Homo sapiens: one gene and its partners. The protein of the gene in region 4 interacts with the protein of the main gene of each other region in a pairwise test. Each region holds a gene or a part of one and is shown on either strand. Other genes may lie near its edges.

Evidence for each region.
Region 1: the proteins of ROR1 (region 4) and STYX interact in a two-hybrid assay, tested with the Homo sapiens proteins (one study listed by BioGRID and IntAct).
Region 2: the proteins of ROR1 (region 4) and PPM1F interact in a two-hybrid assay, tested with the Homo sapiens proteins (one study listed by BioGRID and IntAct).
Region 3: the proteins of ROR1 (region 4) and DUSP14 interact in a two-hybrid assay, tested with the Homo sapiens proteins (one study listed by BioGRID and IntAct).

The regions. Positions count from the first base shown.
Region 1 is NC_000014.9:52,733,159-52,740,184, forward strand, and holds part of STYX (serine/threonine/tyrosine-interacting protein), read left to right. Parts: intron 1-1,686; exon of another isoform or gene 1,687-1,720; intron 1,721-7,026. UniProt on the Homo sapiens protein: Catalytically inactive phosphatase. Acts as a nuclear anchor for MAPK1/MAPK3 (ERK1/ERK2). Modulates cell-fate decisions and cell migration by spatiotemporal regulation of MAPK1/MAPK3 (ERK1/ERK2).
Region 2 is NC_000022.11:21,921,843-21,928,868, reverse strand, and holds part of PPM1F (protein phosphatase 1F), read left to right. Parts: intron 1-3,206; coding exon 3,207-3,300; intron 3,301-5,397; coding exon 5,398-5,777; 3' UTR 5,778-7,026. UniProt on the Homo sapiens protein: Dephosphorylates and concomitantly deactivates CaM-kinase II activated upon autophosphorylation, and CaM-kinases IV and I activated upon phosphorylation by CaM-kinase kinase. Promotes apoptosis.
Region 3 is NC_000017.11:37,492,887-37,499,912, reverse strand, and holds part of DUSP14 (dual specificity protein phosphatase 14), read right to left. Parts: intron 1-7,026. UniProt on the Homo sapiens protein: Involved in the inactivation of MAP kinases. Dephosphorylates ERK, JNK and p38 MAP-kinases. Plays a negative role in TCR signaling by dephosphorylating MAP3K7 adapter TAB1 leading to its inactivation.
Region 4 is NC_000001.11:63,777,009-63,784,034, reverse strand, and holds part of ROR1 (inactive tyrosine-protein kinase transmembrane receptor ROR1 isoform 1 precursor), read right to left. Parts: intron 1-7,026. UniProt on the Homo sapiens protein: Has very low kinase activity in vitro and is unlikely to function as a tyrosine kinase in vivo. Receptor for ligand WNT5A which activate downstream NFkB signaling pathway and may result in the inhibition of WNT3A-mediated signaling.

The DNA of each region.
Region 1 (7,026 bases), on a different chromosome or scaffold from region 4:
TTTTAATACACTTCAATTCTTCCCTGCCCTAATCTTAAAAATTCTAGTTTAAAATTTTCCCGGACTTTGCATTTAATCTGTTACTGTGTATATCATTATGTATGCCTTATTCCTGCAAAACTGATAAATTCTTGCTGGGAATATATACCTGTCTTTTCTGTGTGGGACTTGAAAACACACTCTTTTTTTTATGCTACCAGATGTGTGGGGGTTTTTCCATACCAAGCAGTTTTCCAGCAGGCATGAACTGAATGTCCCATAATTCAATTCTGACACATATGTACCTGAAGTTAGTCAGATCCCACAGGTTAATGGCTCAGTCCCGCAAGGCTGCCCCCAACCTCAGATGGTAATCACAAGTAGTAGGTTGTCACCTATACACTCCTGACTGACTGTAAATCAGGGTTCCCGTTACTCCCTCCTTGGTTCAGTTAACTTGCTAGAGTGACTTACAGGACTCAGGGAAGTACATTTACGGGTTTATTATAAAGGATACTACAAAAGATCAGTGAACAGCCAGTAGGAAGAGATGAATAGGGCAAGGTATGGGGGAAGGGGCACACCACCATCCCAGTGTCACCAGTAGAGTCATGATTGCAAGCTGTCCAGGTTCTTGGCGTTTTGAACAAAGAATTGGACAAAACTCCAAGCAAAGAAAGAATGAAGCAACAAAAGAACAAAAGCAGGGATTTATTGAAAACAAAAGTACACTCCACAGTGTGGGAGCTGCCCTAGCAGCACTCCCCCCCGACCCCCGCTGCTTTACCGAATCTTCTTGGGTCCAAATACCCCCTAGAACTTTCCCATTGGCCATTCCATGCTCACCTCATGTAAATGAAGAGGTGGCTTGCAATTGGTCTGATTGGTTGCCAGACCCACCCCCACATCAGTCCGCTTGGTTGTGGACAGCGACCATTCAGTGGCTAGAGTGAAGTTACAAAGTTGCAAACGAAGATTCCACCCGCAGTCAGTCTGATTTGTTGAGGACAGCCAATTTCCCGTCTACTGTGCAGAAAAGGTAGGTGGTTTGCAACGGGAGTAGCCTCTGGTCCTTTTGTTACTTAGGCGTGGAAAGTTAGGGTTTTCCCTTCAAGTTAGTTCTGGGAAGTCGGGGTGAAACAGCCTTAGATTCCCTGCCTCCAGACCCTATTCACCTGCCTCACTAGCACCTCCAGTGTTTTCATCCAGAAGCTCAACAAATCTTATTCAACGGTTTTTATAGAACTTCATCTCCATCCCCTCCCATAGAGGTGTGTGTGTGTGTGAGGCTGAGAGTTCAACCCTCTTGTCACATGGTCTTTCTGGTGACTGGCCCCACCCTAAATCACTTCATTAGCATAATCAGGTTTGATCAAAAATAGTGGCTCATAAATAACCAAAGACACTCCTATTAGAAAATTCCAAGAGTTTTAGGAGGACTGTGACAGGAACTGGAGAGAAAGACCATGTATTTCATATTATATCACAGGGACAGAGGTAATGGTTAAAGCTAGTGGATAATGATGCAAGTATTGTCTGCTGAAAGCCAATTCGTTCCGTATTTCTTAATATTGCATGTTTGGTATCTTTTGGTTGCAAGCAACAAAAACGAATTTAAGAAAAAGAAGAAGTAATTAAATCCGGCCGGGCGTGGTGGCTCACGCCTGTAATCCCAGCACTTTGGGAGGCCGAGGCGGACGGATCACGAGGTCAGGAGATCAAGACCATCCTGGCTAACACGGTAAAACCCCGTCTCTACTTAAAAAAAAATTAGCCAGGTATGGTGGCGGGCGCCTGTAGTCCCAGCTACTTGGGAGGCTGAGGCAGGAGAATGGCATGAACCCGGGAGGCGGAGCTTGCAGTGAGCCGAGATCTAGCCACTGCACTCCAGCCTGGGAGACAGAGCGAGACTCCATCTCAAAAAAAAAAAAAGTAATTAAATCCAGAAGGGTAGTGGTGCAGCTAGTTTCAAGGATTTGACCAAACCCAGGTATTATAAAGCATCAGAACTGCCTTTGTCTCTCATGAGTTCTTATCTCTACTTTCTCTCGGAGTCTCTGCTTTCTCTCTGGCTTCTCCAAGATGTGAAGCTTGGCCATCTGGGGTCACACCTTTATGAGCTTGGTTATTGAGGAATAAAACTGAACACTTCCAGCTTCTGTGTTTGAAATCTAGAGGAATTGCCCAATTTAATTCATGTTCCCACACTTTGGATCAGTCACTGTAGCCAGGAAAGGGCAGATACAATGAGGGGCCCCATCTAGGTCATATCCCTAATTCCTTGGCTAGAGGAGTGAAGTTTATTGTTGGTAGCCCTCCCACCAAAACCATAGGAACATTTCCACAGGTAGAGGGTACTTTCTGGGCTGATAAAACTATACATAGGGGCCACATAAATAAACTATTAAATAGGAGCATATAGTTATTCATAATAAACTGACTAATAAGCACTGTTAATTTTCTAATCTCCAGTGAGATAATGTAAAGTGTCAAATGGTCTTAAGTAGTTAGAGTGATCAGCCAGCATTGTTTCTTTGACACAGGGAGCACTACCTGGAAATCCAAATTACAGACCAAATTTAATAAAAACTGAATTCAAGCAGAGAGTTCAGGGAATGCTTTTAATGTTAATGTGATCAAGCTATGATAGGTTGATGATTCTGTCACCTCTACAAGAATATTACTTTCACGTTTCTTGAAATATTGGTATTCTTTGTATAGGACAGTGCTAACAAAAATTTAGATCAGTCAGTTTGTGAAAAGATTGTTACTTTTTTTGTTTAAAACTTTTTCATGAATTTCCATTGTTTTGAAGATGAAATTTAAACCCTTGACATTATTTCCAGGGTCCTGTATGGTCTGACATCTGCATACCTCTCTAACCTCATTATGAGCTACTCTTCTTGCTCCTTTCTCTGTAAGCCCTAGCCATATTTATCTTCTCTCAGTTCCTGGAATGCTTTAATTTCCACCCCCCGCCTTCAGAGCCTTTATGTTTGCTATTTTCCCCTGCCTTGGCTGCCAGCACCTTCCTTACCCTCACCTAATTAACTGCTTACCCTTGGGTTAGATCCCACTTTAGGCAACATTTCTTCAGAGAAGCTTTTCCTGTTTGCCAGTTTCTCTAACTCCTTTCCTCATCCTCTAGACTGGTTCAATTCCCCAGCTACTATGGCACTTGGTACTTTAATACTTACCTTTGTAACATTTAACAATTTTTGGTCATTGTCTATTTTCCATTTAGACTGAACCTTTCATAAGAGAGCTTAGATATTAGGAAGAAGGAGTAGCTGATAGTACCAATTTTTAAGCAAATTGGTTGTAGCTGGGGCTATTGGTTTTATAATTTAAAAGTTAATGTTTTATCTTCTCTTCTGACAGAAAGTGAAATATTTATTTCCATTGCAGTTTAGCAACTTTCCATGTTTCCCTTTCCATTTTTCTTGTGAATCCCGTAGTACAGGATCAAAGATAGGAATTATTTAACATACATGGCTGAGGATTCCTTTTCTAGCTCCTTTATTTAGAATGGTGCTTTTTAACCCTTACTCTAGAGTAAGGAATTTTTTAAAAATACTGATGCGTGGACCCTACCAGCACCTATTGTAGTTTAATTTATCTGAATGAAGCTAGATGATTCTAATGTTCAGTCAGGTTTAAAAATTGCTGGTTTAGAAAATATCTTACTTGAGTACTCTTCTGCCCCTCCAGTCCCTGCCCACCTTCTCTTTTTATTTGAGTGAAACATTTTCTTTTCTCCTTTGATTTAAGCAAAGCTCAAGCTTGGTGTGGGAATGAAAGGAAAAGGACTTTGGAGGGATTTACCTATTTTTTCTAGGAGAGAAAGTGCAATACTAACTTTTCTGTTTTGTGGAATGTCCCAGTGCAAGTCTAGTATTCTGATGTTTTTTTTCTTCCCCAAACTGTTGCCCCCCACCTCCAGCCTATGTACAATTTGTGTTTTATTTTAGTATTGTGTATATAGGATTCAGCACTATCCTCAAATGTATGAACATATCCCCTGTGGATAAGGGGGGACTACTGTATTTGTAAAAGTTCATATTTCATATTTCAATGCATATAAGAATTATTTTATCTAATGGTTACAGTCTATATCCTTCATTGATGTGTTTATTTGAGGGTCTTTGAACATTTTTGTAACTTTTCTCTATCCAAATGCAGTTTTATAGATCATTTTTATGGAAAGGAAGGAGATAATTCGGAAGGATGTTTTAACATGTGGTACTTTCTACCTCATGTTGATCGAAAGATTTTCACTTGTGAATTAATTTGTCTCAGAATCATGGTGTTTCACAATAGAGGGTTATTTTGGTTTATCTGGCTTGCCTTGGTTTGGTTAATGTGGTTGAACTGCTTGGCTACTCATAAAGTTTGGGAAATTGATTTCTACTAATTAATTACAATAGTAACTTAAAATAGATCATTGCTGGTGATATGGAGATGCCTCCATTAATACCACGGTTTCTAAAATGATAGATTTCAGGAGTAGTGTGAGCAGGCTGAGATTAAGAATTAAGTGTGATAGTGGCAAGACTTGGTTATTAGACGTGTGTTCAGACGGATGTGTGGTAGAAGAAGACTATGAGCATTCAGACTTAAAATCTTGGTTAGTAAGATCCATAGACAGGCAGGGTTTTTTTGTTTGTTTGTTTGTTTTAACAGGTTGGAGTGCAGTGGCAGGATCTCAACTCACTGCAAGCTCCGCCTCCCGGGTTCACGCCATTCTCCTGCCTCAGCCTCCCGAGTAGCTGGGACTACAGGCGCCCGCCACCATGCCCGGCTAATTTTTTGTATTTTTGGTAGAGACGGGGTGTCAACCATGTTAGCCAGGATGGTCTCGATCTCCTGACCCTGTGATCCACCCTCCTTGGCCTCCCAAAGTGCTGGGATTACAGGCGTGAGCCACTGTGCCCGGCCAACAGGCAGGTTTAAGGTTTGTTCTGTAGGTGGTAATCTGGGTTAGGGCAGCAAAGAAGGTGGATTCTGAGATCAGCATCTGATGATAACACCAGGAATAGTTCCAAATGAACTTTTCTGTGAGAGAAAGCTTTCTAGGTTTCAAAGGATCCATACCTATTGCAGTAATTACTAATGTTCTCTGAAGAAGGCTTCTTATCTGTCCTGTGACTAGGAATAATTTTTCATTCCCTCCTACTATACAACTTGCTTTTCCCTCTTATAATATCTTCCATATATATATATATCTCAAGAGAGTCTTTCATGTTGTATTACATATAACCTTATGGAAAGCTCAAAAGTTCTTTGAAGCCTCTTGTTTTGCTAAAAGGTTCAGGTAAATTTTGCATTCTATCCCATATGTGCCTGTTTGTTTTAATATAAAAATTGTTTAAATTAGTAACCAGTGAAAATACTGTTTCTCCCTAAAGAATTTTTTTGATAAAATTGATACTTCAGTGGCTTTGAGTGTCTTTTGGCATATTGCCAAATGAAGGTGTTGAGGAAATGCCACTCCAAAATATGACACCTTGATATATTGATTACTTTAAGTTGGAAACACTTGCAAAGTAGCAAATGCAAAGAAACACTTTCTCTGAACTCCTGTTACCTACCTAAGGACAGATCCTCCAAAAGAAGCTCAGTTTGCTCCTAGGGAGTTTGATCAACCAGGGAAGATTGTCTCTTATCACTGGAGAGGAGAGTAAAAGTCAGCACCACACCCAGACAAACTGACACAAAGTATCATCTATTATTATTCTAAGGGCCCATTTATCTTTCTCCAGAATTGTTCTTCTAAATTGCCTGTATACCTCTACCCCCATGCTATATAAAGGGTATATAAACTCCTAAATATCACTTTTTTTTTTTTTGTATACACGTTTCTTTCCTGTGATACCCCCATGCACATAATGAATCTGTATACCTTTTCTCCGTTTAGTTTATTTCATAGACTGGTTTGAAATATCACGGATTTTGTTTGTTTTTGGTATACACTTTTTAAAAATACCACTTTTTTTTTTTTGGTATACACTTTTCTTTCCTGTGATACTCCCATACACATAATAAATTTGTATACATTTTCTCCATTTAGTTTATTTCATAGACTGTTATCGAATCCTGATGGTAGAGGGAAAGTCTTCCTTGCCTTACACAAGTATTTCCCAGAATATATTTACACCATTCCTTGATATGTGTTGCCCTGTTTTTTTTTCTTTAATTACACAAAATTTAGTGATTTCACTTTAGATAAATTCAAAAGTACTCATTTCTTTAATTGATTTTCTTCTTTATCACAGCTCTGACAAGTTGCTTCAGGAAGATAAGGCTGGCTGTTAGACTACTTGAGAATCTTTTAAAAAGAAAAAAGTCAATAACATTTAGTGCAGTAGATCTCTGAAATGCATCTATTTTGTGCTTATTCTGTGTCAGGCACTGTGCTTATCATTAGGGGTACCATGACTAAAAAGAGTATTTGGCCTAAAGTCTTTAAAAACTGTTTTCTTTTTCCTTTCTTTCTTTTTTTTTTTTTTTTTTTTTTTCGTTGAGATAGGGTCTGTCTCTGTTGCCCAGGCTGGAGTGCAATGGCACCATGATGACTCACTGCAGCCTCGACCTCCCAAGCCCGAGTGATCTTCCTGCCTCAGCCTCCCAAGTAGCTAGGACCTCAGTCATGCACCACCACCGCACCTGGCTAATTTTTTAATTTTTGTAGAGATGAGGTCTCCCTATATTGCCCAGGCTGGTCTTGAACTCGGGCTCAAGCTATCCTCCTGCCCCAGCCTTCCAAAGGGCTGGGATTGCAGGTGTGAGCTACCATACCTGGCTAAAAAACTCATATATAAAAAGATTACCATAACACATTGGTAAGTTAAAGAATCTAGGCTGGGCGCGGTGGCTCATGCCTGTAATCCCAGCACTTTGAGAGGCCGAGGCAGGTGGATCATGAGGTCAGGAGTTCAAGACCAACCTGGCCAAGATGGTGAAACCCCATCTCTACTAAAAATACAAAAATTAGCCAGGTTTGGTGGTGGGCGCTTGTAATCCCAGCTACTCAGGAGGCTGAGGCAG
Region 2 (7,026 bases), on a different chromosome or scaffold from region 4:
AGGACCTGGCAGGATGAGGCAGAGAGATGAATGGAATGGAGCCGCATCTCAGGCAGTTGCAATTCCTGCAGGCCAGGGGAGAGACCAGGAGGAAAGGGCAGGTTATGCCAGAATCAGGGCCAGGTGTGGAGGTGTGCCCCAAGTGATCCTCCCACCTCTCAAGCCTCAGGAGACAGGAGGATGGCTTGAGCCCTAGAGGTTGAGGCTGCAGTGAGCTATGTTCATGACACTGCACTCCAGCCTTGGCAACAGAGTGAGACCCTGTCTTCAAAAAACAAAAACAAGCCCCAGAATCAGTGGGTAGAAGACTCGGGGCAGGGGAGAAGACCACCCACCTGCTGCTCCTTCAGCTGGAAAAGCTGGACTGCCCCAGGCTGGGAGGAACTCTGTAAGGACTCACTAGAAGCTTCTGAAGTGATCAGGCCACTGGAGGACAAGTTGAGGGCTGGGTCACAAAAGTGAGTTCAGGAGGGCAGTGAGAGTCACTCAAGGTCACAGGTCACGCTGGCACGCCTGGCAGGCAGCCTGGGAGAGATAGGAGTCCCGGCTCTGCAGGTGGAGACATCGCAGAGGGCCTTGGGCATCCAGGAGGATGGCAGTGCCATAGGCGACGCTGCTGCGGCCTGGCCGTGTGGAGCACTGCACTCCTAGGAAGCAGGAAATGGCTGTTCACAGGAACCCACAGGCCACCGGCTCCAGCTTTGACCTGGGAAGCTGTTTCAGGCAGGTGGAGAGGATGAGGTTTGAGGAGCAGAGGGAAGAGCTGCTGAGGGGGTGGGCGCTGGGCAGTCGGGAGGCGAAGGCAGGAGATGGCTTGAGCCCTAGAGGTCGAGGCTGCAGTGAGCTATGTTCATGACACTGCACTCCAGCCTTGGCAACAAAGCAAGACCCTGTCTCCAAAAAAAAAAAAAAAAAAAAAAAAAAAACAAAACAAAAAACAGAATCAAGAATCAGTGACTAGGAGACTCAGGGGGAATGGGACAAGACCCCTTAGCCTGGGGATATGTTAGTCCCGGACCAGACTGAGCCTGGCCAGTGTGTGACGGAGGTGGGAGCCACTGGAGGGGAGGAGGACCCAGGTTCAGGGCCAGGGTTAGAGGGGCGAGCCCGGGGAGCCGGCGCAGCCTGTCCAGCACAGGGGGTGCAGAATGGCAGGAGAGGGGATCACAGGCTGCAGGGGAGCAGCACAGCCCCTGTGCCCTCCTGCCCTTTGGCTCCACCCTGTCCCACAGCCATCCCTGGTGGTGGGGAGGGGCTTCAGGTAGGAAGGTTCTAAGCTTAGCCTGCATGGCCCCCTGTGGGGGAGAGCCACCTCCAGAGGGCATGGGAAGCAGATTGCCGTTCATTCTCCATCACCTGCCCACATTCCTGCCTCTGGGACATTGAGGGGCTGGAGTGGGCTGGGGTGTGTGGGAGACAGAAGCAGAGAAAGGCTCCTCATTCTCCCTGGAGCCTCCCACGCTCACAGCCCCTCCCCAGGGAACGCCTCTGAGGCACAGGGGAGGAGGCGCTGCTTCCTCTGCAGCTCCTCGCCGTCTGCAGGCGCCTTCACGCGTGTGTGTGGGCACATGTATGTGTGAACATTCGTGCGTACTCTGTGTTCATCCACCTGCCTCTCCCCGTGCCCTTTCTCCTGCCCTCTTCTTGGCTGTCTCCTGCTCTTCCCTCCTTCCTGGTCCTCCTTGCCTTTCCCTTGCCCTGCTCAGACCCCGGAGGTGGCAGATCTTAGACCCAGAGAGAGCCTTGAGGTCCCTGTTCCTGCCCCCTTCATGGCTTGATTCTCCACCTCAGCTGGGACAGGAGCACCCAGCCTACCAGGCACTGGTCCAGTTCCCACACAGGCTCATGGCTGCAGTGCCCAGGAAGGCCGGGACTCCTGCAAACCCATGTCATTCCCACCACAATGCCCTCTGCAGGGGAGCCACATAAAGAGGCCTGGTCCTTGGTGCAGGCATCTGGAGAGGGCTGCCTCCCCCAGGCCTCCCGCAGTGCATGTCCGTCTGCTCTGGGGAGGGAATTGGCTGATATCCCAATCTGTCTAGGGGACACCATCACCTGGGGCATCAGAGTTCTCATGCCCAGCTGGTGCTGTGCCTGGGGACTAGAAGGGCTGGTGCTGCGTGGGGTCAAGAGGTTTACCTGATAAACCGGTAAGGGATGCCCTCTTCCCCCAGTAGACTTGGGAGGTGCCTCACTCCCAGGGTGCCTCCGTCACTCTGTCAGGGATGCTGTTGTGCAGGCTTCAGTCAGCAGGCTCTCATCGGGGCAGCCTCTCCTTTGGGCAGAGGCTGATAGGACCAAAGAGGTTTCTAGAGGACTTGTGGGTGGACCAAGCCTCTGTCCTGTCCCTGGAGGAACCCAGGCCTGGGGTGTTGTGGTCCCCAGCTGAGTGGAGACTGTGCCTGTGCTGAGCTTGGGTAGAGGAGGACAAGAACTAGGCCAGGCGCGGTGGCTCACACCTGTAATCCCAGCACTTTGGGAAGCCGAGGAGGGTGGATCATGAGGTCAGGAGATCGAGACCAGTCTGGCCAACTTTGAGAAACCCTGTCTCCATTAAAAACACAAAAAAATTAGCTGGGCATGGTGGCACGCCCCTGTAGTCACAGCTACTCAGGAGGCTGAGGCAGGAGAATCACTTGAACCCAGGAGGCAGAGGTTGTAGTGAGCCAAGATCGTGCCACTTCACTCCAGCCAGGTGACAGAGCGAGACTCTGTCTCAAAAAAAAAAAAAAAAAAGAACTGGGCGGGCACAGGCTGCCGTCAGGGCCTCGCTCAGGCTTCCCTGCTGTGTGACCACTCACGTCACATGCTCCATCTTGGCCCAGCAGCTTTCAGGGCAGAGACGGTGTCCCCGAGCTAGAGACAGGGAAGCAGAAGGATCTGCTGTCTGTGTCGGGCTCGCAAGCCTCGTGAGTGCCTCCCTGACCCAGAATGCTGCCCAGGGGCGCAGGCACCGCTAGGCGGCCTCAGGTGGTCCGTTCATTTCACCATTCCTGCAACTAAAGGACTTGTGGGTTGTGTATAATTTCTCACTGTTTTTGATGAGCCTCGTTTGGGTGCATCTCTGAGCCTCCTGGCTTTGTTCCAGTGCTGCGGCTTTGAATGCTGCTGTCTTAGAAGCAGCTGTGCCTCTGCTCAGGTAGCAGCAGGGGGCTTCACGCCCCATCCCCCCGGCCCTGCCCCCAACTCTGGCTGTGTTTCTGCAGGATGAGAAGGCGCGCATTGAAGCATTGGGTGGCTTTGTGTCTCACATGGACTGCTGGAGAGTCAACGGGACCCTGGCCGTCTCCAGAGCCATCGGTGAGAGCCAAAGAGGCCGACCCAAGTGGGAGAAGGTCTCTCGGAAGCCCAGGCCTCGAGTGTGGCCCGCGGCTCACCAGGGGTTCAGGGAGGCAGTGTGATGGGCCGAGGGGGATTTGTCATGCACTGGGGTGATACCCTCGTAGTGTGAAGGGAACAGGGCAGATTCAGAGACTGCAGCACCAGTGTCTGAGTGTAAGTTACACTGTATGTTATTATCTCACCTAAAACAGCTCCTACAAATCTCATAGAAACCTGTGGCTCACCACCCTATGGGCTGGAAGTAGAGCTTCCAATATTCCGGAAATGAGGTTTATCCTCCTCCCGCGTTCATGCTGACAATCCTTTTTTCTCTTTTGGGAAAAAAGTGGGTTCGCTGGGCGCGGTGGCTCACGCCTGTAATCCCAGCACTTTGGGAGGCCGAGGTGGGTGGATCACCTGAGGTCGGGAGTTCGAGACCAGCCTGATGAAACCCCATGTCTACTAAAAAAAAAATACAAAAAATTAGCCAGGCATGGTAGTGAGCCCCTGTAATTCCAGCTATTCAGAAGGCTGAGGCAGGAGAATCACTTGAACCCAGAAGGCGGAGGTTGCAGTGAGCTGAGATCGCGCCACTCCACTCCAGCCTGGATAACGAGGAAAACTCTGTCTCAAAAAATAATAATAAAAATAAATAAAAATTTTAAAAAGTAATGGGTCTGGCTGGGCATGCTGGCTCACGCCTGTAATCCCAGCACTTTGGGAGGCCAAGGTGGGCGGATCACCTGAGATCGGGAGTTCGAGACCAGCCTGGCCAACATGGTGAAACCCCTTCTCTACAAAAAATACAAAGTTAGCCAGGTGTGGTGGCACGCGCCTGTAATCTCAGTTACTTGGGAGGCTGAGGGAGGAGAAGTGCTTGAACCCAGAGGCGGAGGTTACAGTAAGCGGAGATCGTGCCACTGCACTCCAGCCTGGGCAACAGAGCCAGACTGTGTCTCAAAAAAAAAAAAAAAAGTAGCTGGGCGCGGTGGCTCACGCCTGTAATCCCAGCACTTTGGGAGGCCAAGGCGGGTGGATCACCTGAGGTCAGGAGTTCGAGACCAGCCTGACCAACATGGTGAAACCCCATCTCTACTAAAAATACAAAAAACATTAGCCGGGCGTGGTGGTGCCTGCCTGTAATCGCAGCTACTTGGGATGCTGAGGCAGCAGGATCACCTGAACCCTGGAGGTGGAGGTTGCGGTGAGCCAAGATTGCACCATTGCACTGCAGCCTGGGCGACAAGAGCGAAACTCCATCTCAAAAAAAAAAAAAAAAGTGGGTCCAGCCTGCATCTCATTGTCTCAGCATGCGGTCAGTGCCGGGTCTCAGGCTGTGGGCACTGTGACCACACCTCCTTCCTGGTACTTAGAAAATCTCTCCCTCCCCAGCTGATTGCCAGGGATTTGGCACCTACCCCTCTGAAACATTCTGTCCTTTTTGGCAGATGTGGCACCTTCTTGACAGCCCATCCTCAGGCTGTGTCTTTCCTTGTGTCTCTGGACACTCCAGGAAGTGAGGCCAGGATGGGACGGCTAGGGCAGAGAAAGAGGGAGCTCGGCCTGGTGTGGTGGCTCATGCCTGTAATCCCAGCACTTTGGGAGGCTGAGGTGGGCAGATCACAAGGTCAAGAGATCGAGACCATCTTGGCCAACATGGTGAAACCCCATCTCTACTAAAATACAAAAAAAAAAAAAAACAATTAGCTGGGCATGGTGGCGCGAGCCTGTAATCCCAGCTACTCGGGAGGCTGAGGCAGGGGAATCGCTTGAACCCAGGAGGCAGAGGTTGCAGTGAGCTGAGATCGCGCCACTGCAGCCTGGCGACAGAGCAAGACTCCATCTCAAAAAAGAAAAAAGAAAAAAAGGGGGAGCTCACAGGCCAAGGTCAGGGGTTTCCGTTCCCAGGCAAGTGGGAAGTACTGGGCAGTTTGCATAAGGGAGCAACAGACCCCAGACCCCATGAGAGCAGGTTGGTCTCTGTCCCTGCAGGATGTGAGGTCTAGGCCTGGGTAGGTGGGGAGGAAGCTGTGGACACCGTGGTCCTCTGACCCGGGCTCTTCTCCGCCTGTCCAGGGGATGTCTTCCAGAAGCCCTACGTGTCTGGGGAGGCCGATGCAGCTTCCCGGGCGCTGACGGGCTCCGAGGACTACCTGCTGCTTGCCTGTGATGGCTTCTTTGACGTCGTACCCCACCAGGAAGTTGTTGGCCTGGTCCAGAGCCACCTGACCAGGCAGCAGGGCAGCGGGCTCCGTGTCGCCGAGGAGCTGGTGGCTGCGGCCCGGGAGCGGGGCTCCCACGACAACATCACGGTCATGGTGGTCTTCCTCAGGGACCCCCAAGAGCTGCTGGAGGGCGGGAACCAGGGAGAAGGGGACCCCCAGGCAGAAGGGAGGAGGCAGGACTTGCCCTCCAGCCTTCCAGAACCTGAGACCCAGGCTCCACCAAGAAGCTAGGTGGTTTCCAGGCCCCTGCCCTCCCCTTCCTCCCATCCTTGTCCTTCTCTCCCTCAGAAGCCTCAGGACCCAACAGGTGGCAGGCAGTGGACAGGGTGCCCGCCCCACAGTGCTTTCCCCAGCACCCCAGAGCCAGTCGGGACACCCCCCGCAGCCCGTCCTGGTGGCTGTGGAACTGCACTGGGTGGCGGGCAGATGGTGGAAGGCAGCTTAGGAGACCTCACCAAAGAGAAGATGGACCGGCTCTTGCTCCCAGCTCCTATTAGGCCCGGGGTGGGACCAGAGGTCATAGGTGCCCAACGGCAGCCAAACCAAAGACACTGGTGTGCATGGGGCAGCATGGTTGTGCACGTGGGACCCTGGGGCGGACCCAGGAGCCAAACTCTTGAAGCACCCCCTGGGTCAGGCCCAGCAGCGGAGTGGCCAGCCCCAGTTTCCCATTGCTCCTCTCTGCGGCCAGGGCCAGGTGGGTTCATATTTACAGATATGCCCAGCCAGTCCTGGTCGGCCACACCAGTGTCCCAAAGAGGAGAGCGCAGCAGAGCCAGGGGTCTGTTCTGTAGCAGCCACCCCCCTGCCCCCACTCCAGGGCAGCCATGATGTGCTTGGGCCCACCAGGGCCTTCCGGGCTGCTCTCTTCCCTGAGCCCGGAACCGGCGACGCACATGTGTCTTTTGTTGGTGTGTTTGTTTTTTTCCAGGGAGGTCTAATTCCGAAGCAGTATTCCAGGTTTTCTCTTTGTTTTATCAGTGCCAAGATGACCTGTTGTGTCATATAATTTAAGCAGAGCTTAGCATTTATTTTATTCTTTAGAAAACTTAAGTATTTACTTTTTTAAAGCTATTTTTCAAGGAACCTTTTTTTGCAGTATTATTGAATTTATTTTCTAAATCAGGATTGAAACAGGAACTTTTCCAGGTGGTGTTAATAAGCCATTCAAGTGCCTTACACAGCTTTGAAGAAACTAGGACTGCAGTGGGCTCGGATAGGCCCATTGAGGTTTTTAGAAAAGCAGGATTTGTTTTGTTAGGGAGGCATGATTTTGGTGAGATCTTTCTGGAAGAGTTTTCCGCCTCTTTGTGATGCTGAACACCCCCAAGGTTCTCCCCTCCCCCCGCTGCCCAGGTGACTGGCAGGAGCTGCGACTGCCACGTAGTGGTGCCTGGGCCCGACAGCGGGGCTCTGGGCATCCCGGGTGACCTTGGCCCATCTGCCTGCATTCCCACCCCCTTGGGCCTGGCTGGATCCC
Region 3 (7,026 bases), on a different chromosome or scaffold from region 4:
AAAAAATACTGTCTGGAAACACAATATGACAATGTAATAGTTCCCTTTAGAAGACTACATTACTAATTAGTAAAACATTTCTAGGCTGGGCATGGTGGCTCACGCCTGTAATCCTAGCACTTTGGGAGGCCGAGGTGAGTGGATCACCTGAGGTCAGGAGTTTGAGACCAGCCCGGCCAACATGGTGAAACCCCGTCTCTACTAAAAATATAAAAATTAGCCAGGTGTGGTGGTGGGCACCTATAATCCCAGCTACTCGGGAGGCTGAGGCAGGAGAATCGCTTGAACCCGGGGGGATGGAGGTTGCAGTGAGCCGAGATCGCGCCAGTTCACTCCAGCCTGCGTGAAAGAGCGAAACTCTGTCTCAAAAAACAAAAAACAAACAAACAAACAAAAACACTTCTAGAGGGTCGGGTGTGGTGGCTCACACCTGTAATCCCAGTACTTTGGGAGGCCAAGGCAGGAGGATTGCTTGAGCCCAGGAGTTCGAGGCTGCAGTGAGCCAGGATCATGCCACTGTACTCCAGACTGAGCCAAACAGTGAGACCCCATCTCTTAAAATAAAAAAATTTAAAAAATAAAAAAAAGAAAGTTTGCCAACTGATATGGTTAGGCTCTGTGTCCCCACTCAAATCTCACCTTGAATTGTAATTCCCATAATCCCCACGTGTCAAGGGCAGGACCAGGTGGGGGCGGTTTCCCCCATGCTGTTCTGGTGATTTTGAGTGAGTTGCATGAGACCTGATGGTTTTATAAGCGTCTGGCATTTCCCCTGCCTGCACTGACTGTAAGTTTCCTGAGGCCTCCCCAGCAATGTGGAACAGCGAGTCAATTAAACCTCTTTCCTTTATAAATTACCCAGTCTCAGGCAGTTCTTCATAGCAGCGTGAGAATGGGCTACTACACCAATCCTTGGTTGAAATTAGTAAGTTATAAAACCATCACAGCATAGTAGACGCATTCTTCAAAGTGTGCTCCCAAGGAGTCCTACACGAGAATCACCTGGGCTGCCTGTTAGAATGCAGACTCCTAGACCCCACCCCAGACCTAATTAATCAGAATTTCTGGAAGTGAAGGCCTGGGAATTCACATTTCTAGTAAGTACCTTTTTAGAAGGAATCTAAAAATATTATTAAGAGTAATCTGATATTGTGGAAAAAATATCTCCTGTACTTTCTAGGAGGATAAATGGAATAAGAAACTCCGTAAGTGTAATTTTTGTAAAAAAAAAAAAAACTGATTACTTTCATATAATACAGTAGTCATTTGGATTTAAGATACAATCTAGGCCGGGTGCGGTGGCTCACGCCTGTAATCCCAGCACTTTGGGAGGCCGAGGCAGGTGGATCACGAGGTCAGGAGATCGAGACCATCCTGGCTAACACGGTGAAACCCCGTCTCTACTAAAAATACAAAAAATTAGCCAGGTGTGGTGGCGGGCACCTGTAGTCCCAGCTACTGGGGAGGCTGAGGCAGGAGAATGGCGTGAACCGGGGAGGCGGAGCTTGCAGTGAGCAGAGACTGCGCCACTGCACTCCAGCCTGGGCGACAGAGCGAGACTCTGTCTCAAAAAAAAAAAAAAAAAAAAAAAAAAAAAAGATACAATCTAGTACACAAAACAAGTTCTACTCCATTTCCATTTTGGATCACCTTTGGCTGAAAGTTTACACCAAGTAATTGAAGCTCTGTAAAACACTAAATACTTCTCCAATTTTTGTTAACAAGAAACATCATGTGACAAAAAGGAAAAAAAAGAAATATCATGTGAAATGTGAAATGCTCTAAGAGTTCCATCCCCTAAACATAGAACATATGTGACAGTACAAAATAAAGGCTAGTAAAGATTTCTGTCCTTTTTTTTTTTTTTGAGACAGGGTCTTGCTCTGTCACCCAGGCTGGAGTGCAGTGGTGCAATCTAGGCTCACTGCAGCCTCAACCTCTGGGACTCAAGCGATCCTCCCACCTCTGCCTCCTGAGTAGCTGGGGCTACAGGGGTGCGCCACCATGCCTGGCTAATTTTTTGTAGAGACAGGGTTTTGCCACGTTGCCCAGGCTGGCCTTGAATTCCCGGGCTCAAGTGATACTCTGGCTGGCCTCAGCTTCCCAAAGTGCTGGGATTGTAGGCATGGGCCACCATGCTTAGTCTTGTCTTGTCTTTTTTTTTTTTTTTGAGCAAGAATCCTGGAGCACAGTGGCACAATCATGGCTTACTGCAGCCTCGACCTCCTGAGCTCAAGCAGTCCTTCCACCTCAGCTTCCCAAGTAGCTGTAACGATAGCCATGAGCCACCACATCCGGTTAATTTGTGTTTTTTGTAGAGACAGGGTTTTGCCATGTTGCCCAGGCTGGACTCGAACTCCTGGGCTCAAGCCATCCACCTCCCTAGGCCTCCCAAAGTGCTGGGATTACAGGCATGAGCCACCACACCAGGCCTCTATGTCCTTTTGACATTCATCAAAAAAGCAGTTTGAAGGCAGGGCGCGGTAGCGCATGCCTGTAATCCCAGCACTCTGGGAGGCCAAGGCAGGTGGATCACTTGAGGTCAGGGGTTTGACCAGCCTGGCCAACACAGTGAAACCCCATCTCTATTAAAAATACAAAAATTAGCTGGGCATGGTGGCATGTGCCCGTAATCCCAGCTACTCAGGAGGCTGAGGTAAGAGAATCACTTGAACCTGGAGGGCGGAGGTTGCAGTGAGCTGAGATTGTGCCACTGAACTCCAGCCTGGGGAAGAGACTCTGTCTTTAAAAAAAAAAAATGCAGTTTGAAGTAAAATTGATATTTAAATAGAGTTGGAAGGAAATGTACCAAATTCATGGGAGTGGTTGTCTCAGTGGGAAGGGAAGAGAAATGGCCCAAGGAAGCTCTGACTTGATAATACTTAATTTCTAAGCATTATAAAAGATAAAGTATGAGCAATGATTTTTGAATGGTGAGTTATGATGCTGGTTAATTTGCTTTCAATAATTTTCTTTTCTTTTTTTTTTTTTTTTTTTGAGACAGAGTCTTACTCTGTTGCCCAGGCTGGAGTGCAGTGGCTCAATCTCTGCTCACTGCAACTGCCTCGTCCTGGGTTCAAGCAATTCTCCTGCCTCAGTCTCCCAAGTAGCTGAGATTACAGGTGCATGCCACCACACCCGGCTAATTTTTTGTTTGTTTGAGATGGAATCTCGCTCTTTCACTCAAGCTGGATTGCAGTGGTATGATCTTGGCTCACTTGAACCTCCGCCTCCCAGGTTCAAGCAATTCTCTGTCTCAGCCTCTGGAGTAGCTGGGATTACAGGGGCCCACGACCACTCCCGGCTAATTTTTGTATTTTCAGTAGAGACGGGGTTTCACTATGTTGGTCAGGCTGGTTTCGAACTCCGGACCTCATGATCCACCCGCCTCAGCCTCCCAAAGTGCTGGGATTACAGGCATGAGCTACCGTGCCCGGCCTAACACCCGGCTAATTTTTACATTTTTATAAGAGATGGGGTTTCACCATGTTGGTCAGGCTAGTCTCGATTGAACTTTTGACCTCAAGTGATCCACCTGCCTCAGCCTCCCAAAGTGCTGGGATTATAGGCGTGAGCCACTGTGCCCAGCATAATTTTCTATATGATTTCAATTTCTAAAAGTAAAAAATATTTTTAATAGAAGAAAATTAACAACACATAGTTGTCGGTCCAAGCCCCCTCTCCACTTCTGGCCTGAGCCTGCCAGTGCTCTTTATATAGGAGCCAGGATAACACCAAAGATTTATAATGATGACATGAAGTGTGTCTTCATTATAAATGTTTTGTGTTTTATAATGAAACACAAAGATTTAAAAGATTTAGTTAAATCTAAGATTTAGATTTTAGCTAAATTGGCAAAATTCTTCATTATAAATCTCCAAATTTGTATGTAATTTGTATGTTGACAGTACTTCCAGATTTTATTTTTACAAGTGCTTCCTTAAAACTTAAAGCAGGCTGGGCGCGGTGGCTCATGCCTGTAATCCCAGCACTTTGGGGGTCCGAGGCAGGTGGATCACGAGGTCATGAGATCGAGACCAGCCTGACCAACATGGTGAAACCCTGTCTCTACTAAAAATAGAAAAATTAGCTGGGCGTGGTGGCATGCGCCTGTAATCCCAGCTACTCGGGAGGCTGAGGCAGGAGAATTGCTTGAACCTGGGAAGCGGAGGTTGCAGTGAGCCGAGATCGCGCCACTGCACTCCAGCCTGGTGATGGAGCAAGACTCCGTCTCAAAAAAAAAACAAAAAAACAAAAAAAACAAAACTTAAAGCAAGTTCACCTACTGGTCACTTTCCCAGGCAGGGAAGGCTGGTGCTTTGAAGGCGCTCTCTGCCACATAATGTTTACTAGTCAACAGAAGCAGCATGCTCTAGTTAGGGAGTTTTCTCATATGTACCCACACACTCAAAGACATAGGAGTCAAAACAAACAAACAAACAAACAAAAAAACTTGCCCTAGGTCATTGATGCTGAAACTGTTCTGGGACAAAGACAGAAGTAAACCCAGCAGTTGCATATGAACTTCAAAAGAACCTTCTCGTCCACTGAGGTTTCAACATGGCATGGGGTGTGAAAAGCTGACCCAACCGGACCTCTGGTTGCTCTAGGTTGGTGCAAGAACAGAATGGGACGTGCCCAGGTGAGCTGGGTGGGCTGCACATGAAAGGGCATGGCTGTGATCTCAGCCCTAGGCCTCCTCCCTCGCCCAGGCTGAGGCTGCCCCTGCCCTGCAACAGGTGGAAAATGGAGCTCCTTTGTGAAAGCTGCCCGCTGGAAGGCCGAAGGGGTGACAAAGAACACGACAGGGCTCCTCCCCCATCACTCAGATCAACAGGTTCTCATACTAACGACTTCTTACTCCTCCTCCTTTGGGTGTCTTTTCCTGAAAACTTCTAATTTATCCGCATGTGGTTTCTAAAATTATCATTATTTTAGAGAATCTGAAAAAAAATCTTTACTATAATGAGCAAAAAAGTCTTTGTGACTTATGTAAATAAAGACTGAAAATAGAGTGATTTAGCTATTTTCCAAGATGCTTTAGAGAAGAAATAAAAAGGATCTACAAATCTCAGTCTTTGTGCTAGTGTTCTTCCATCATCCCTCCAGCTAAAAAGGATTCCCCTGAGGTATTTTGTAAACCTACAGAATTGCGTAACATTCTGCTCTAAGGGCAGAAACACAGCACATAATACTAGGCACATGGTAAGTACTCAATGAACACCTGAATTTAACGGCTGCCCTCAGGTGAACTGCCCACCTCTCCCCACACCCTCCCTCCTGCTCCTTCTCTTTCTCACATTCTCTCACTCTCTCTCACACACACACTTCAAATCCAGCTGGCAAAACTAAACACGGGCAATCAAAGTGAGCCTGGTAACTGTCTGTTCACAAAGCAGGAATTCAAGCTGGATGTGGCACATGCTGCAGTCCCAGCTTTTAGGAGGCTGAGGTGGGAGGATCCCTTGAGCCCAGCAGTTCAAGGCCAGCCTGAGCCACACTGCTAGACTCCATCTCTTACAAAGAAAATGAACAAAAACGACAAAAACTCTGCTCTAAGCTACTTCTACTTTCTCAGGCAAAGGAAAATTTGGAGAAAAATACATTTAAAAGATTTAAAGGCTGGGTGCGGTGGCTCACGCCTGTAATCCCAGCATTTTGGGAGGCCGAGGCGGGCGGATCACGAGGTCAGGAGATTAAGACCATTCTGACTAACATGGTGAAACCCCGTCTCTACTAAAAATACAAAAAATTAGCCGGGCATGGTGACGGGCACCTGTGGTCCCAGCTACTAGGGAGGCTGAGGCAGGAGAATGGCATGAACCTGGGAGGCGGAGCTTGCAGTGAGCCGAGATCGCGCCACTGCACTCCAGCCTGGGCGACAGAGTGAGACTCTGTCTCAAAAAAAAAAAAAAAAAGTTTAAAAGAGTCATTGATTCCTGTAGCACAGAGTCTGTGGTTACTTTGGAATTGCCAAGAAGTATGAGTTAGGGTCTGTGCACAGTGCCTCTTAAGGAGTCTCATCCTCAGAGGGTACTTTAACAAGGATAGGCCTGGGTTCCTGCACACTACACTGTCCTACACATTTAGGGCTGGGCACAATGGAAGCATTCACCAGAGGCAGGATTCATTCAAGAGCCTTAAAAAACATCTAGGTACTAGCCACTTATTTTTAGTACTTCATTTTGCATATTTAAAATTTCCTGTAACTACTCATCTGTTCCAAAAAAAAAAAAAAAAGATTGATGAAAGGATTCCATTAGATATTTGTCAACCAAACACAGTGGGAAAACCATTTCTGGTATTTGGGTGGTTAGTCCAAACCATATAACTAAATAAAAATACGCTAGCACATGACAGGCCAGGGATCGGACTACCCAGGGACCTTTATTCATTCATTCAGAAAATATTCAAGCATAATTGTGGTTAAACAGCAAATACAGTGACTTACAAACTCAAGGCTGACACCACTGAAGGAATGTAAATTGGTACAACCACTTTGGAAACCAGGTATCAACTAGTAAAGCTGAAGGTATGCACACCTGACTCAGGGCTGTTCATAATTGCCCCAGACCAGAAACAACCCAGATGTCCATCAACAGTGGAAAGGTAATTTGTGGTATGTTCATAAGACAAAAATGTACTAACTGGGCTGGGTGTGGTGGCTCACACCTGTAATCCCAGCACTTTGGGAGGCCCAGGCAGGAGGATCCCTTGAGCCCAGGAGTTCAAGACCAGCCTGGGCAATATAGTGAGACCTTGTCTCTAAAAAAATTAAAACACAAAAACTACAGGCATAGGCAACGATATGGATAAATCTTTTAAAATAGCATGCTGCAGAAATTTAAAAAATTATATATGTGCGTGTGTATATACATACATACACACACACATACATACACATACACACACACACACACGATGCCGGCCAGAAGGAAGGATTCACAAGAGTATCTACTTTTAGTTTGCACTGAGGTTAAAAACAAGCAAAATAAAACTATGTCAATTAGGGATTTATATTTAGGG
Region 4 (7,026 bases):
TGCAATGCAGTTTGGCATAATAATGATTAGGAACAAAACTCAGGCCTTAGGATATGCAGGTTCAAATCCTAGTTTTCCCATTTAACTCTCTGTGTGGTCTTGGGCAGGTTACTTACTTCTCTGTGCCTCAGTTTCCTTATCTGGAAAATGGGGATATCGTGGAACACACTGAGCACCCTGCCACATGCATTGTGAGTGTTCAAGGAGTGTTCAGCAGCCGGTGAAAGACCTGGTCAGGATTAATCTGCTTCTAAAGCCCATATACTCTTGCTCTGCTGTGCACCTTTTCAACAGACATGTGGTCGTTGGAAGAGTAAGTAGTTGTGTAGTTACCAAATAGAAGGGAAGACACCAAGACAGTTCGTCTTGTATTTTCTCCCATCTGCCCTTATCCTGGCTTTTAGCCTGGATTCTGCTTTGGGCATGGTGGAGGATTCACACAGGTGTGGAGCTGGAGAGAATCAAGATGCCTAATAGTGAACAATAATGCTCCTAGAACTCTGGCTTACCTCATAGGGTCGTCCTGAAGACTATGCAAGTTAAATCGCTTAAAGAACTTAGAATAGTACTTGGCCCACAGTATGCTCAGTGTGTTAATTATTAGTATACTATTATTCTTTTCATCAAGCAGACAAGAGGGGGAATAGAATTAAGTAGCCTGCACTATAAGAGAAAATGGCTGCATTAGAGACAATAAGACACCATCATATACCTTTGACAAGCAGCCCTGAAATGCACAACATTTTTAACTCCCTGGGACACCCTTTGGGAAGAAAGACAAGTCTTCAGGCTCCCAGTGAAACTGCTTCCTTCTCTCTCCTCCTCCACCCTTCATATGCTAAAAACACAACAGGCTTCATTCAACGCTGTCTTTCTTTTCTTCACTCTCCCATCCCCTGGAGATCAGCTTCATTCCACAGTGAAGGCCTGGTTTAAGAACTCAGGATAGTCTCAGCGAGTCCATGGAGACCCCCAGAGCAGCTGCAGGCTGCTGTGGAACTCCAGCCCTTTTCCAGCAGTGAAATGTCCAACTCCTCTTCCCATCTCCCATCCTTCAATCCCGCACCCTCTCAATCCTTCCTTCAAGGCTCACATCATATCACACTTCCTCCCGAAAGACCCACCCTTCTAGGGATTCTGCATATATAATTGCCAACTCTGTACTCACTGGCTGTATAAAGTGCCTATTTTACTGCCCCTAAAAGGTAAACTCCCCAAGGGTAAAGGCCACCCTTCATTCTTCTAGATTCTCTACAGTGCTAGAGGCACCCTATGTGTGCCATAAATTATTTGGGAAGGGGTTTAATTTACTGGATGGAGCCCCAGGTCTGCATGAAGTGGTCAGACACAAACCAGGTTTCCTATTTTATTCTATCTAAAAATGCTGGTCCTAACCCACTAAATTGATCTCACCACACACTGATTTACAACCTCATGTTAGTTAAGGTAACATTAGCAGCTGTAACAAAAAAAAAAACAAAAAAAAAAAACCTCAAAATCTCAGCCTTAACAATGGACACTTGTTTTTGGTTCACATAAAACCTAAACAAGTGTGGCTTCCACCACACAGTGATTAAGGGAGAGTCTCAGGCTCTTTCCACGTTGTGACACTTTCAACACATGACTTCTAAGGTTGTCAAGCCACCGAAGAAGGATCATACCGATTCTGCCTGGGGAGTTTTTTATGGGTCAAGCCTACAAGCGACAAAAATTACCTCCAATTTCATTTAATTGGCTAGTATTTAGTCACATGGCTTCACTTAACTGTGAGAAAGCTGAGAAATGTTGTCTAGTCATATGACCGGAAGAGATGGAAACATATTTGGTGATCAGCTAGCAATCTCTGCCATAAATCTGTCATTTGAAAAACCCTCCAAGGCAATGATCTAACCTTATTCATCTTTACATCTCCAGTGAGACTATCAGAATATTTGGTTCACTGTAAGTGCATAGAAAATGTATGATCAATGAATGAATGAGGGCAGGTGGTAAATCCTGGCCAGAGTTCTAGGAGCGCTATAGTTCATGATGAGACATCTTGATTCTTTCCAACCCCACATCTATCCAAATCCCCTCCCATACCCAAAGCAGTCCAGTCCTAAAAGCCAGGATTAGGGCAGGTGGTGAATATACCAGAGCAACTGTATTGGTGTCTTCCCTTTCATTTGGTGACTGCACAGTTACTTACTCTTCCAACAATCACATGTCTGTTTAAAAAGTGCACAGGGGAGCAAGAGTACATGGGTTTTAGAGGCAGATAAATCCTGATCAGGCCTCTCACTGGCTACATAACTATAGCAGAACACTCACTGAGCGCTCACTATGCACAGTCTGAGTGTGTTCCATGAATTATTTCATTGACTCTTCACAATAAGCCTATGAAGGAGGCACTCATGTTCTTCCTCTGACCCTCTAATCCCCTGAGAATTAATGTATTCTTCCCCATGTTCCCACAGCATTTTTTCCACAACTCTTTCCTATAATTCACTTGTGGGAGAGATAGTTGCCTGTGGTACCACATCTGCTCATTGGTGTCTCCCCAATCACACTTTAAGGATAACAAAAAGAGCATACATCTGAGAGTCAAAATACCTAGATTCAAATCCCAAATCCCAACTTAATCATTGTACGAATTTGGCTGAGATACTTACCTTCCTGAGCCTCGATTTTCTTATCTGTAAAATAGGATCAGAAGTCCAAACTCCAAGGAGTGCTGAGAAGCATAAATTTAATAGCTTTAAAAAAATGATACCTGGCATATAGCAGGTGCTCAAAAAAGTGAGAATTTTTCTCCTCTCTCCTTGAGGGCAAAGTTAATACTTTATTCCTGGACACGAATACTGTATCTTTCATGTGATAAATATATAATAAATGTTAGTTGAAATACACTGAGTGACAAGCTTCACTGTTGAAAAATAAAATATCAAACCCAACCTCTGCTTTGTCTTTAGAAGTCCTCTTTATCACCCCTCCTGCTTCCCACACGCTTCATTACTCTTCTCTCTTTGGGTAACATGAACTTTTTTTCTTCTACTCAGAAAATTTAAATGGCAAACAGAGCACCTCAGGATCCTTTCCTCCGGCCATTATCCTTCTCTTTCAAGTTGTGCTCAGCAAGATTATTTGGATATTGGAGCTAAAAACGGTCAGATTACAAGTGGAGGTCCCTGAAATGTAACATTCCCCATTGTAGGATTCTGGAATTACACTAAGCACCTGGGAGGGGTTGCTCTTCCCCAAAGAGCTTGCTGTTCTGAAAAAAGCCTTTGTTTTAAGGCATTGCAAAACTGCACTGTGGAATCCCTTCCATCCAGGTCCCCAGCACTGGCCTGGGTACTGCTCAGATCTAGAGCATCTGCATGCTCCCTATAAAACAAAACACTCTGGAGTCCTAAAACCTTGTAAAACTTGCTATTCTCTGAGCCTTGGTTGCTACCTTGCAGCAGGACCATCGTTTTGAAGCCAGATTTTCAAATTTCTTCAGTAAGCCCTTGATAATGATGGTGGCTAACATACTTCACGTTCACTAAGTCCATGGTGCTGTGTTAGGCGCTATAAGTTCATAACATCCTTTTATTCTCACAAAACCCCCCAGTAAGCCACATATTATTGTTATTCCCATTTTACAGATAAGAAAACAGAGGCTCAAAAGTTTAGGTAACTTTGCCCAAGAAGGCAACAAAGCCCCAATTCAAACCCCCATTCCCTATCAGGCTCAAATCCCATTCTATTTCCATTACTCCACGCCACCTCTTTAAGCAGCTATCAAAGGAAGTCCATCCTGTATAGAAATACTTGAAAAAAATAAAGTTTGGACTGTTGATCTTTTTTTTAGTCCCCCTCTCTCTCTTAAAAAAAAAAAAATCTATGGTTCTATGGAGAGAAGCAGGAAAAGGAAATGTAAGGAGGCCAAACATTATGAGGCTTGGCTTATCAGTATTTCATAACAGCTTTTGGATCAAGACTGTACAAAACCTTATTTATGGACAGACAGTTACTGTTAAGCAGAGCCTTTTTATACAACCTTTTCATCTGAGGATGTTGTAGCCTTCTGCTGCCTTTCTATTAGTGAGAGATGAGGTGTGAAATTTGCTGGCCCTGCCAAGATTATCCCATTAAATTATCTGCCCTCTTCCAATGTAATTCACTCAGGGGCAACTGTTTGAGACTCAGGTCCTATGGATGTCCATGCCTGGGTGTTCTGGGGGGTGTGGCTGGGGGCAGGGGATGAAGGAAAAAGTTCAGATGGTGGTAGCATCCCAATCACATAACATTAATCCACGTTTCACTGCCTTACCAAAATAAAGTGGATGCCACAATTATCCCATTCCTAAACAAACTGAAAACCCCAACTGAGCTTACTGCAACAAAGAGAGAGCCTTTTTACTGCTGTTTATTTTTATTTTGTATTCGTTAGCTTTTTAGATATTCCTGGCATGCAAGTCAGTCTCCGTGTAACAAGCAGCTGCATTTAGTTAAGGATTTTCGAAGAGTTGCCCCCATCCCCTCCCCCTTCAACTCCAGAGAACTTTCTCAGACTCTCCTTTCTCTTCCAGTTTCTACCGAACAGTCTCTCCCGTCACACCCCAGGGAATGGGTGAAGCCAGGCTAAGGCCCTTCTGTTTGAGAAAGAGGCCTTGAAGACGTGAGTGTTTCTCAGCTGGAGCTGGATTTGCCAGGGTCTGGTCCTCACTGGGACCTTGAGCTGGCAAGCCAGCTGTCCCACTAGACAGCACTCTAATAAATCCCCGCCTTCTCAGCCTACAACCACAGTTGTCCACCAAGATGCAAATACAAAGTCACTTCATCAAAATATAGCTTATTGATAGTTGGAAAAAACTGGCGAGCACACTTCTCAAACCACATCAAAGTTGAAGCTCATTACAAAAATGTAATTCTTCCAGAACCAGAGATCCAGGCCATCCAACAAGGTGCTTCCAGTCTATCTCTGAGTTTCAGCAAGACCGTCTTAGGGAACTCCAGCACTCGAAGGGAAATTGAAATTGGCTGTCTCCAATAATTTCTTATAACCTCTAGATTACAGCTAAGCAAGCTTCCCTTTGCTGCTGTTGGAAAACCTTGGGAAATACCACCTTTGTTCCATACATTAAAAGAATATAAATTGTAAGAATTAAACAAGGAAAGAATGTCTAGGACAGCCACTAAGGTAAGAGCATGAACTGTTAGGGCTTGTAAGCCCAGTAATGCCACTTTTTAGCAGTGTAACCTAAAGAAAGTAACTTAACCTCTCTGTGCCTAAGTTTACCCATCAGTAAAATGAGCTAATTATGCTATCTCCCTTATAGGGTTGTTGTGAGGATTCAGTGAGTTAATACTTGCAAAAGGCTTAGAAGAGTGATTGGCCCATTGTAAGGATTAGATAAGTGTTTGTTAAATAAACTGTACAAATTGCATCTCAGAATGCTTGGATTCAGAGACATATTTTCTTACTTGAGGTCACAAGGACTTGGCACCATTCTTCAGCTTCTCTCAGGCCCAATTAACAGCCTGCCTGGTGGAAGGGAAACTGGGAGGTGAGAAGTGGGGCCTCCATGGAGTGTGTTAACCTGGGATAAGGCCTAGAACTAGCCACCAACACTCAACTCCTTTCAGCCTCCCCAGGAAGACAACCCATTGCCTCAGGCATCAAACACTCCAAGTCAGCAGTTCCTATCGTTCAGAGGTTGACACTTTTCTTGGAAAATAAGATTATAGCTATAGCTATAAATACAGAACCGTAAAAATGCATATAAAATTGTGTATATTATTTCTGGAAGTTCACATATCCTTAATTTCATGTACCCCAAATTAATTTCACGCACTCACCTCTTGGCTGGGTGCTGTTCTCCAGTACTTTACATGCATGACCTCACTTCAATCTCATAACACTCTTGAAAGGCTCAGGAAAACTGACACACCCACTATACAACAGAGAAAAGATTCAAATCCAGGTCTGTTAAATGCCAAAGCCTGTGCTTGTAACCATTTAGCTTTACTGTCAAGTTCTGCTACACTACACTTCTTTCATACTAGAAGATGGGACAAGAAAAGGAAAAATCCTTGAAAATATGCCATGTTGCATTTTTACTAAGCAAAGCATATATCAGAATTTTGCATACAACCGAAAAAGTTATTCTCCATTCATTCAACAAATATCTATGGACCACTTACTATATATGTGTGTATATACATATGCTATCTGTACATATACATTTACATCAAAGTACATATAGCTTACAAAGTGTTCCATTCTCCATAGGATGCTGTGTAAAATTTTCAGAAATATTTGAAATGGGGTAGATGTTCACCATCAAACCACCAGCCAAACCTGATACTAATTTCAGAGCAAGTGACACTTTCAGAAACTTTCCAAAAGTCTAACTGGGGGCCTATGCTCAAGATACAGAAGAGAAAGGGTGCTATAGGGCAAAGCTGACCCCTCACTAAATATCAGGCAGATTATCCCAGGCATCAGAGAAGCAAAACAGCCTACCATGTATACTGAATCTATATTGGAAATTAAATATTTCCAAAACTGAAGGAGACAATTTGACCACACCCTTTGCCCATCCCACCTTGGTTCGGCTCCCCCTAGCCAGCCAGGGAGGATTTTCAGGCATCTCTAATAAAGTTGGGACTAGTGGACTTGGGCTCTCAGTGTTTTCACCAGAAAAGCTCACAGTCTTATTGCCTTCAAGACACTTCTATTCTAAAAGTACAGACAAATACCTATTTAAATGGCAACGGAAGGTTTACAAAATGATAGCAAACACAGTAGCAAGCCACCTCCCTCTGGCTCCCAGCAGCCAAACCACAGAATCTATAAGATTTTGAGAAAGGCCAGGTAGGTTCCTAAAGCCCTGGGCTTGGGTGCAGTTATAAGGTAAGCTTCAGGTTCCTAAAGAAGTTGAGCTTTGCATAGGGAGGGGGTAGATGAGAAATCAACAATGGACAGACCAGAAAAAATAAATTTAAAGGTTTTCTTCTCCTGGCTAACAAAATAGAAAAATGATGGGAGAAATGTTT